Regions from separate parts of the Homo sapiens genome. Here region 2 is linked to region 1. Evidence: fine-mapped QTL for protein levels in blood plasma. A gene starts in region 1. The other region holds a variant in brackets. All regions are shown on one strand. Distances are between the middles of the regions.

Region 1 (4,351 bases):
ATGTCCTTTGCAGGGACATGGATGAAGCTGGAAGCCATCATCCTTAGCAAACTAACACAGGAACAGAAAACAAAACACTGCATGTTCTCACTCATAAGTGGGAGTTGAACAATGAGAACACATGGACACAGGGAGGGGAACAACACACACGGGGGCCTGTCAAGGGGTGGGGGCCAAGGGGAGGGAGAGCATTAGGAGAAATACCTAATGCATGTGGGGCTTAAAACCTAGATGACGGGTTGATAGGTGCAGTAAACCACCATGGCACATGTATACCTATGTAACAAAGCTGCACATTCTGCACATGTATCCCAGAACTTAAAGTAAAATTAAAAAAAAAAAAAAAAAAGAAAGAAAAAGAAAAAGAAAATGCCGTCCGCGCATATCTCTCAGGAGCATAGGAAGGGCTGTGAACCAAAAAGCCAGGGCGTGGTCGCCCCGCCCACCGGCCGCTACATCACCACCCCTCTCGCCGCTTTCAAGCGCGGAGATTGGCTGTAAGCAAGAAAGAGCCCCGCCCCTAGTCTTATGACTCGCACTGAAGCGCCGATTCCTGGCTTTTGCAAGGCTGTGGTCGGTGGTCATCAGTGCTCTTGACCCAGGTCCAGCGAGCCTTTTCCCTGGTGTTGCAGCTGTTGTTGTACCGCCGCCGTCGCCGCCGTCGCCGCCTGCTCTGCGGGGTCATGGTGTGCTTCCGCCTCTTCCCGGTTCCGGGCTCAGGGCTCGTTCTGGTCTGCCTAGTCCTGGGTGAGTTGTCGGGCCCTCCCGATTAGTCTGTCCGCCTGGGCCCGGGGCACCAGTTCAAAGCTACAACCTGAAAGACTGGTCCGAGGGGGAGGGGGTTGAGAGGCTCAGCAGCTAACACTGGGCGGCGGCGGTTGGCCCGGGGAGGCAAGCGGTGACCTAGAGAAGGCCTGACCGACGGATGGCGGGGAAGAAGGGCCCAGGAGAGTAAGAAGGGGCCGGTAACGGGGGGTGGACGCCGAGGGAGTAGGCTGGGAGGAGTGAAGCGTGGAGAGGGTCAGCGTGGAAAGAGTAACTTGGGGAAAACACTGAGGAGTGAGCGTAGGAGGGTGGTACATGCAGATTTTGGGCGCCAGAGACAATTAGGAGAGTCTTGGTTTGCTGAGATCAGGGAAGAGTTTTGAAGATGGTGGAAAAACTATGGGGTGAGATAGGAAATTAAGAGAGAAGACCATGCCTGCCTGGAGTAGCTTGGGAGAAGTGTGTGGGTGGGGGACAGATGGGACAGATAGGACAGTAGAGCCTGAGGGGCAGGGGCAGTGACAGGGTTGGGCATTTTGAAGGTTGGAATTTGAGACTGTGAAGAAAGGATGATTCAAGAGATTAGGAGTGATGCTGGGTTTGAGTTTGGTAGTCATAGTTTTAAGGGCGAAGGAACCTAAGGTAGCTGGGGCAATTTCCAGGAAAGAAAACTTGGACCCAACCTCTGGAGACTAAGGGGTTCAGGGGGAACTTTGATGGGGAGTGCACATCTGACTTGGAGGTATTGAGGATGTCGATTTTCTCCCAGTTTTGCTACTTCCTCCCAGCCAGACGCTGACAAAAAAATCCCCAGACGTTTCAGTTAGGAGGGCCTCCCAGATGTGAGGTTTTGGGGGTGGAGTATTTGAGTTTGGTAGACTACCTCTTTGCCTTCAGAGTTTCTTCTTTTCTTTCTTCCCCATCACACAGCTAGCCTATTACCTCATATTTTGGGGGTGCAGGGAGCAGGTAGACAAACTTGCTAAGGATTGGGTTGTTACCAGGGCCTAAGAATGGCTGGATGGGGCCGGGCGTGGTGGCTCATGCCTGTAATCCCAGCACTTTGGGAGGCCGAGGTGGGTGTATCACCTGAGGTCAGGAATTCAAGACCAGCCTGGCCAACATGGTGAAACCCCGTCTCTACTAAAAATACAAAAATTAGCCGGGCGTCGTGGCACATGCCTGTAATCCCAGCTGCTTGGGCGGCTGAGGCAGGAGAATCGCTTGAACCCAGAAGGCGGAGGTTGCAGTGAGCCAAGATTGCGCCATTGCACTCCAGCCTGGGCGACAAGAGTGAAACTCTGTCTCAAAAAATAAAAATAAATAAATCAATAAATAAATGGCTGGGTGAATGTTCGCTGATTGTGTTGTGCCCTAATAGGCAGTGGGTCGCTAACAACTTTAATGCCTAAAAGTGAACTTTGACTAAAGTGTCTCTTCCTGACTTTGATTCATGCTGTGCTTGTTGCTACCCACCTGCTCTTGCTATTTGTGACTTAATAAAATAACATAAAGAACAGACCCAGATGGGAGTGGGGAAGAAATAGACATATTAGGGGTCTGAGAAAGCAGTGAGAGGTATACATTTTGTAATTCACATTTCAGTAGAATGAAATCAACACCCTGGAATAGTGATTCTCAACCAGGGGACATTTGGCAACATCTGGAGACATTTTTGGTTGTAACAACTGGGGGATTGCTTTTAGCATCTAGTGGGTAGAGGCCAAGGATGCTGCTAAACATCCTAACTAAGCACAGGGCAGCCCCTGACAACAAAGAATCATCTCCCTGAAAATGTCAATGGTGCCAACATTGATAAATCCTGCTCGAAAACCATAGTATTGGAAGGGTTCTTGATTATCTAATTCAGTGACTCTCGAGGACCTTTTCATGCGTCTGTGAAATCAAAACTTCGGAATAAGGTTAAGAAGGTATTTGTCCTTTTCTGCTGGGCACAGTGGCTCACGCCTGTAATCCCAGCACTTTGGGAGGCTGAGGCGGGCGGATCACCTGAGATCAGGAGTTCAAGACCAGCCTGACCAACATGGTGAAACCCAGTCTCTACTAAAAATAGAAAAATTAGCCGGTGTCGTGGCACATGCCTGTAATCCCAGCTACTTGGGAGGCCGAGGCAGGAGAATCGCTTGAACCCAGGAGGCGGAGGTTGCGGTGAGCCAAGATTGCGCCACTGCATTCCAGCCTGGGCAACATGAGCGAAACTCTGTCTCAAAAAAAAAAAAAAAAAAAGAAGTTATTTGTCCTTTGTCCTTTTCACTCTCATCCTCTCACCAGTGTACAGCAGAGTTTTCCAGTGGCTACGTAACATGTGATGACCTCACCACTCTGATGTTCTTATATTTTATTCATTTCTCAGTTTTAATTTCTAATACTGTAAATACCAATACATATGACTCACATAAACCTCTGTGAAGTCCTCAGTGGATAAGAAAGTAAAGGGGTCCTGACACCAAAACTTTGGGAATCCCTGATGTAGTCCAACTGTTCACAGCGCGCAGGAAACTCTTCTGTAGCACTTCTGAAAGGCGGCCTTGAGGCAGGCTTTGCTTGAATACTTAATTGGAAGCCTTAACTGTACCTTGGAGCACTTACTGAGGGCCAACTGACCCTAAGAAAGGATTGTTTACAATGGAAAGTACCTTATCAGTGACTAGAACACATCTGACCAAGGCATCTGTTAATCAGTAGTTCCCTGCCAATTGAATCTGTGCACAAATACAACACTGTTATTGTTTTGGGAAAGTGAAAAAAATAATAGTTGTCCTACTTGTTGGCTTTCATGTCATTAAATTTTTTTTTGTTTTTTAATGAAAGCTTTTTTGTTTTGTTTTTACAAAAGCAATGCTTACTCACTGCAGAAAATAAACATGCAAAAAGAAGCACATAAAAGAACCCATCAGCTCATCTGCTAGTTTGCCATTTATTGATCAGGACTAACTAGATTCTTCCTCTTGGAAAATTTCCAAGATTGATTCCCTCCGCCTCCAAGTTCAGAGCAGGATTTGGAAAAGTAAATATTAATAATGTACCTAGATCTGATTTTTAAGAGGTTCCAGGATGAAATAGAAACCATTTTTCTATACAGCTGCATTTTCTGATGGCTCTTGGTTCAGTGTGGAGCCCAAAGTCCTCCCATATAGCTTTTTCTGTCAAGAATTTAGCAGTTGCTTGGTGGGTTTTGCACAAGTTACTTTTCTATATCAAAATGGATACCAATAATAGGTTTTTGAAAACTTAATAAATATTTGTAAAGTACCTAATATGTAGCTAAATCAATAAATATTTGTAAAGTACCTACTATGTAGCTAGAACTGTGCCTGGGTACTGTACGGAGTGCCAATGAAGGAGGACCTGTCCTAAATTTATAGTCTTATTAGCATTAGTGCTCTAGCTGTGCCAGTTTGACTTTGTAACTTTATAACTCTATCCCAGCTTCACCCATAACCTTTTAAAAACAGCAGCTTTAGAATAAGTACAGAAAAGGATTCTTAGAGGCTATATATTGGTCTTTTTCATAGAGATTAAATTATGCTGGTGTTTATTTGGATGAATTGTAACTGACCAGACA
Region 2 (7,110 bases), 16 kb after region 1:
GTATACCAGGTATTATCCTAGTATACAGTAAGTCACCTTACTATATATATCCTAGTATACATATATATGTGTATATATATACATATATATGTATATCCTAGTATATATGTATATATATATATACACATATATCCTAGTATATATATACACACATATCCTAGTATATATGTATATATATATCCTAGTGTGTGTGTATATATATATATATATATCCTAGTGTGTGTGTGTGTGTATATATATATATATATCTCCTAGTATACAGTAACACACCTAGTGTGTTACCTGCAGCATCTCACTTAATTCTTAACAGCAACCCTGGGAAGTAGATGTTGTTTCATTTTTACAGGTAAAGGAAATGAGGCTTGATAAGATTAAATGACTTTTCCAAACATCACACAGTCTGGTAAGTGGGCGAGCTGGTGTTTGAAGCAGTCTATTGACCTGCAGAATTCATATACTTAACTATTATTGATTTCATTCAGTAGTGTGCATGAAACAAAGGTTTGATGAATGAGAAAATGCTTTACTAATAGCTACTTTATTTTCAAGATCGGGGGTTGGGGGGGGTGTCTCACTATGTTGCCTAGGCTGGTTTTGAACTCCTGGATTCAAGCGATCCTCATGCCTCACAGCCTCCTGAATAGCTGGGACTACAGGCATGCACCACTGTGCCTGGCTACTAATAGCTATTTTAAATGTGTAAAAGTTAAGTAACCTGAGACTAGGAGAAATGCCTCTTGTTCAAATCTTTTTATCATTTAGGTTGGATTTTGATTGAAAAGTAAATGATGATTAGTTAAAGGTGTAGTAGTCCCTCATTACACTCAGGGGGTATCATTCTAAGATCTCCCGTAGATGCCTAAAACTGCAGTTACTACTAAACCCTATACAGGAAATGCTATGTTTTTTTTTTTTTTTTGATCTGATAACTGACATGGCTACTAAGTGACTAACGGATGGATAGTGTAGACAACGTTGATATACTGGACAAAGGGATGATTCATGTTCCTGGTTGTGCAGAGCGGGACAGCAAGAGATTTAATCATGCTACTCAGAATGGCGTACATTTTAAAACCTATGAATTGATTACTTTTGGAATTCTCCATTGAATATTTTCAGAGCTCAATTGACCATGGGTAACTGAAACCAGGGAAAGCAAAAACCGTGGATAAGGGGAGACTAAAGTCAACATTTGCTGTTATTTTAAGACAATTTCAGGTCAAAATGAACTTGGGAAGCATTGGCAATTAGGCCATTCTAGTAATTCCCAGAACTGAAATGCGTGTTAAAATATTTTGAAGATATAGAGTGTAGAGATTTTATTTTATTTTATTATTTTGAGCTGGAGTCTCGCTCTGTCGCCCAGGCTGGAGTGCAGTGGCCTGATCTCGGCTTACTGCAACCTCCGCCTCCCAGGTTCAAGCAATTCTCCTGCCTCAGCCTCCTGAGTAACTGAGATTACAGGTGCGTGCCACCACGCCCGGCTAATCTTTGTATTTTTAGTAGAGACAGGGTTTCTCCATGTTGGCCAGGATGGTCTCGAAATCCTGACCTCACGATCCACCCACCTCAGCCTCCCAAAGTGCTGGGATTACAGGCGTGAGCCACCGCACGTGGTCGAGATTTTAATTTTGTTAGGGATATAATTCTCTTCTTTCTCCCCCTGCCCGTTGAGATTGAGTTAATGTGGTATTTGTAGTAGCTTAGCTCTTTGCAGATAGTGTTTCATTCTGACCCCAGAAACAGGTAGATGGGCTTTAGTTGCCTAGACCTGGGGATTAATAACTCATTTGGACTTAAGGATGTCAAAAGATCCTATTCGAAAGAACCAGAAGTAAATAAGCTCACGTAAAATTTGGGAGGTATTGCAGAATGAGACTTGGAAATCAAATCCTAGTGTTCTTTTTACTAATCTCTTAGTTTGAGAGTATAACTAAAGCAAATGGTTATTGGCTATCTTATCAGTTTATCTTTGTGCCCTGTTTTGCCTTTCAGAGCTAGTATAAGATATGCCCCTCACTTTCAAGTAGCCTAAGAATGAGCTGGGGAGACAAAGCTAAATGCTATTCCCGAGTTACATGGAAAAATTGGAAAACATTGAGCTCAGTCTGATTTTGTTGTTGTTGTTTGCGTTTTTGTTTGAGGGAGTAGAGGGTTCATAAATCTCTTCTGACAGTGTGAGGAAAACTTTAGACTCCCTCTCAAAAAAGAAAAAGTACACAGTAAACTTTGCATATGGAACATAGTCCCTGAACCCATATGTAGATCCCTGTGGTTAAGAGTGCCTGATTTAGGTCGAGAATGGTAGCTCATGCCTGTAATCCCAGCACTTTGGGTGGCCGAGGCAGGCTGATCACTTGAGCCAGGGAGTTCAAGACTAGCCTGGGCAACATATTAAGACTTTGTCTCTACAAAAAAAAAAAAAAAAAAAAAGCCAGGTGTGGTGGCGTGTGCCTGTGGTCCCAGCTACCTGGGTGGCTAGGGTGGAGGATCGCTTGAGCCCAGGAGGTTGAGGCTCCAGTGAGCTGTGATCCCACCACTACACTCAGCCTGGGTGACAGAGAGAGAGAGACCCTGTCTCAAAAAAAAAAGAAAAGAAAAAGAAAAGACTGGCTGATTTAAAAGTGTTCCCGTGTTCCCACAAGTGGTCCTGATTAGGAGGAGTGATAAAGGAAGGCTCAGTGTGTGTTAGAGTAGTGAGAAAGCTTGGTAGAGAAGTAGGACCTGAGCTGAAACTCAGCTAATGGTAGAATTTGAGTAAGCGGAGGATTTTGAGCAGGATGTTTCCAGCAGGGGGAAGCATAGCATATGCGGCAGTAATTGGAGAGCTGCCTGATTAAATCAGGCTGTGTGTGTAGCAGAAGGAAAATAAAGTTGGCTAAATGAAGTGGGCCTAAATTATAGGGGGCCTTGGAAGCCAAGGAAAGACATTTAGCTTGATGGGGCAGGCACTGGGGAATCATTTTAGGTTTTTAAAGCAGGAGAATGATATAACAAAAGCAGAGACAGTAGCTTATAAAGAATATTCTGCAGGATTAGTTGAGAAGTGAGGAGGCTACAAGCAGAGATGCTGGCTTAAGAAGCTGTTATAGTAATCAAGGGCTGATGTAATAAATGCCTGGACTACAGGGGCATCAGTTGTTAGCAGTTATTAGGAGGAGGTGTTTAATCTGACATATTTGGATAGAAAAACTATGGACCCTGAAATGTTAACACTTCTCTCTTTCCCCTTTTATTTAAAACAAAGGGAGGATTACTTTTTAAATTACTACCTTCTATATAATAATATTTGAAACTATTTGGAATGTTAAATGGCTTCCTGAAATGGACTATTAATAATTGTTTTTGATATAGTTCAGTGTTTCAAGAATACTAATTTATGGCTGGGCGCAGTGGCTCACACCTGTAATCCCAGCACTTTGGGAGGCTGAGGCTGGTGGATCATTGGAGGTCAGGAGATTGAGACCAGCCTGGCCAACATGGTGAAACCCTGTCTCTACTAAAAATACAAAAATTAGCCGGGTGGTAGTGGTGCGTGCCTGTAATCCCAGCTACTCAGGAGGCTAAAGCAGGAGAATCGCTTTAACCTGGGAGGCGGAGGTTGCGGTGAGCCAAGATTACGCCACTGCACTCTAGCCTGGGCAACAGAGGGAGACCCTTCCTTACCCACCCCCAACAACAACAAAAAAAACTAATTTAGGCCAGGTGCAGTGACTCAACGCCTGTAATCCCAACACTTTGGAAGGCCAGGCAGATCGCTTGAGCTCAGGAGTGTGAGACTAGCCTGGGCAACATAGCGACATTCTGTCTCAAAAAATAAAAATAAAAAACTACTAATTTATTTTTAGGCATCTGATAACTGAAGTAACATTGAAGCTGCTTTTTTCTTTTTTAAATTTTTTTCGTGATTAAAATATAGAAATGTACTGGCCAGGTGTGGTGGCTCGTGCCTGTAATCCCAGCATTTTGGGAGGCCAAGGCAGGCAGATCACCTGAGGTCAGAAGTTCGAGACCAACATGGTGAAACCCCATCTCTACTAAAAATACGAAAATTAGCTGGGCGTGGTGGCGTGCACCTGTAATTCCAGCTACTTGGGAGGTTGAGGCATGAGAATCGTTTGAACCTAGGAGGTGGAGGTTGCAGTGAGCTCATATCATGCCACTGCACTCCAACCTGGGCAACAGAGCAAGACTCCATCTCAAAAAAAAATTATATATATATAAGTTACGTATATAATAAGGGTTTTTTAAAAGGCTCTACATATACATATATATATATAAAGATTATATATCTATAAAGATTATATATGTATACAGAGAATAATATAGCAGACCCATATGTACCCATTATCCAGAATTAATAAATGCTGTTTTTTTAATGTTTGTGTTACTTTTTTGATTAAAAAGATAAAACGTTGACAATACAGTTGATATTTCCTTTGTCTTCATTCCCCAGACCCATTTTCCTTCTTGCCTGCTAAGAGGCAAACACTTTCACAAATTTGGGGTATAACCTTCCTGTCTTTATGTTTGTCTTTTACTATATAAGTACGTGTTCATAAACAATACATAGTTTAAAAAAAGCTATTCATAGTATAACTCCAATATGCCTGCAAGTTGTTTTTTTGCTGATTTGCTTTTGAAGTCCATCTATATACAGCCAGTCACGTATCTATTCATTTTTGTTAACGGTGAGAAGCAATTCTGGGAAAAATGTTCTAGTTCATTGGTTTTTTGTTTTGTTTTGTTTTTTAATTCCTATGGCCATTAGGGGGTGCCAAGGCAGCATTATATGGCTGCTTGCTACATGATGGAGAGGCACAGAAGGCAGCCTATATTAAGGACCTTGGATACTTTCCTTTCTTGCTACTTCTCCAAAAGAAGCCAAACCACTTGGGTGATCATCGTCTTTTGAAGTTTCACTATACACAGGCTAATAAAAACTATATGAAATGGCTGTAACTTACTGCTTTCATACTCTGAAGATTCCCTGAAATGGAATCATCTTTAAATGTAATCCAGGAAGCGGTTCTATAAGCTCATTGGAGTTAATATAACTTACTTGGGACTAGTAAAACAAAAATAAGGATTTACTATACAAATGTATGATTAATCCATCTCTCTTGCTTCTTTAGTTATAGTCACTAAGTCCTGATGATTCTACCATAGATAAGTGTTTTCAGTTTGGCTTCTTTGCTCTCTTTCTACTGCCCCACACCATCTTAGTTTAGGCAACCCTCCCTTACCCTTCACCTTAACCAGACCATCACCCTCTGGTTTCCCTCTTAAGTGGCTTCCCTGAAAAGTTTTTCCCCCTGCTTATCCCCTACAAATTTGCTATCTTCCTTAAAATAAATTATATATGTGTTATTTTCTGCTTTAAAAACTGAGGCTAGCCCTCGACTGCTAAAAAGAAAAGCCCAAACAGGCCTTAGATCATAGAAGATGCTTCAAAGTATGATCACCTGCAACTTGTCTTTCCTTCTTAACCCCCATTTCTTTTCCTTTTTTCTTTCTTTTTCTTTTTTTCTTGAGACAGAGTTTTGCTCTTGTCATCCAGGCTGTAGTGCAGTGGGCGATCTTGGCTCACTGCAACCTCCGCCTCCCGGGTTCAAGCAATTCTCCTGCCTTAGCCTCCCAAGTAACTGGGATTACAGGCACCTGCCACCATGCCCAGCTAATTATTATCTTTTTAGTAGAGACGAGGTTTCACCATGTTGGTCAGGCTGGTCTCAAACTCCTGACCTCAGGTGATCCACCCACCTCGGCCTCCCAAAGTGCTGGGATTACAGGCATGGGCCACTGTGCCCAGCCCCTAACCCCCATTTCTTCTTCCCCCTTACTCCTTATGTTTTAGCCACAGTGAACTAGTCATGCCCTTAAGCATGCTATATCCTTTGTCACTTTGTGCCTGGGGTAGGGCAGGCAGAGAGAAGAAGAAAGCCTATACAAATATATTTATATTATCACTTTTCTCCTACCTTCTTGGAAATAGCCATTGTTAATCTTGTTTTATAGGAATTCTTACTGTTGATGAACTTTTGGCCATCAGAATTCCATTGAATGACCTTTTTAGATGCAATAGTTTATCAACTTTGGAAAAGAATGATGTTGTCCAACACTACTGGGATGTTCTTGTACAAGCTTTTGTCCAAAATGGCACAGTGAGCACAAATGGTGAGTAAAGTATATATTTCTCTACTTGGATCCTAATTTAAGAGTAGAGTATACCAGGTAGCTTTCATTGAAGTCATTATCTGAAAGCATTTATATATTAAGGTTTATTCATAGCTTCTACTAGGCTATAAAGTTTTTGTAAATAATAGCAATTCTTATTTTTGTGTATCTTACAATTTAAAGTTTTTGATGTACATGTTGTGGAATGGTATTTTAAAAGACACTACCTATACTGTTCTCAGCTGATAAAACCTAATCATTGTTTGAACAGATCCTCAGATAGCTTGATTATCAGCTTTTTTAGCGGTTCCAAGACCAAAGCTTAGAAATCAGATTCATATTCTAATCTTGAATTTTTAAAGTTGATTTTATAATTTTTATATAGCTTTATGGAAAGGTAATAATTTCTCATTCACCAGTTCTGGAAAACTATGAACACTTCCCAAGAAGAGGTTGAAATGCCTATGATTTGCCATAGGGCTAATGCAAATAAATGGTTCATTTGTATTTAAGTCCTTTGATGATTTCTAAGCTTTTTTCTAGTAAACAGTATCCTTCCTTATGGTGATTGTATGTGGGAATAAAGAACCAAAAAATTTAAGACTTAACTCTCTGAATTTCGTATCAGAGGCAGGCAAAGTTCTTTGGGAATAAAAAGATTTAAGGGTCTGAAAAAGACGAGTATGTGGCCAT[G/T]TGGGAGCAGATAAAGCATAGGGATGTGTCCTGAGTTTGCTGTGTCATAACTCATGTAGATATTCTGTATATGAAGCAGCAGTTTAAGAACCTCTGCCTAATTTAGTTTCAAATATACTAACAAGATATTCTCTTCCCCTAATATAACCCTTTTGGACTTCTATTATGAGAATTTTTTTTGGTTTTCCCTGGCCTTATGAATTAAGAAAATGTCCGCTTTGGTTTCTTTTGTCCCTTTTC

Which allele goes with the higher level. Alleles are on the strand shown, and positions count from the first base shown. The strength of an association depends on the size of the effect and on how common the allele is.
For the plasma level of the protein whose gene starts at base 557 in region 1, allele T in region 2 goes with a higher level than allele G (weak association).

The links. A credible set is the group of variants that fine-mapping cannot tell apart. PIP is the chance, under the fine-mapping model, that this variant and not a neighbour inherited with it causes the effect. The UK Biobank Pharma Proteomics Project read protein levels with antibody pairs (Olink). The fine-mapping took linkage between variants from a reference panel, not from the people measured, so its PIPs are less certain.
Region 2: its variant is the best candidate, but not a certain one, in a credible set for the plasma level of the LAMP2 protein (UK Biobank, PIP 0.73).

The regions. Positions count from the first base shown.
Region 1 is chrX:120,465,502-120,469,852 of GRCh38, reverse strand. It overlaps LAMP2 (lysosomal associated membrane protein 2), which reads left to right and starts at 557. Exons shown (of 9, transcript NM_002294.3): 1 at 557-747. The coding sequence starts at 684. RefSeq lists a silencer at 355-619.
Region 2 is chrX:120,448,037-120,455,146 of GRCh38, reverse strand. LAMP2 (lysosomal associated membrane protein 2) reads left to right here. Exons shown (of 9, transcript NM_002294.3): 4 at 6,019-6,177. Among named protein-coding and RNA genes, the nearest start is that of LAMP2, 18 kb to the left of the region's middle. The variant G/T (reference allele first, on the strand shown) is at 6,871.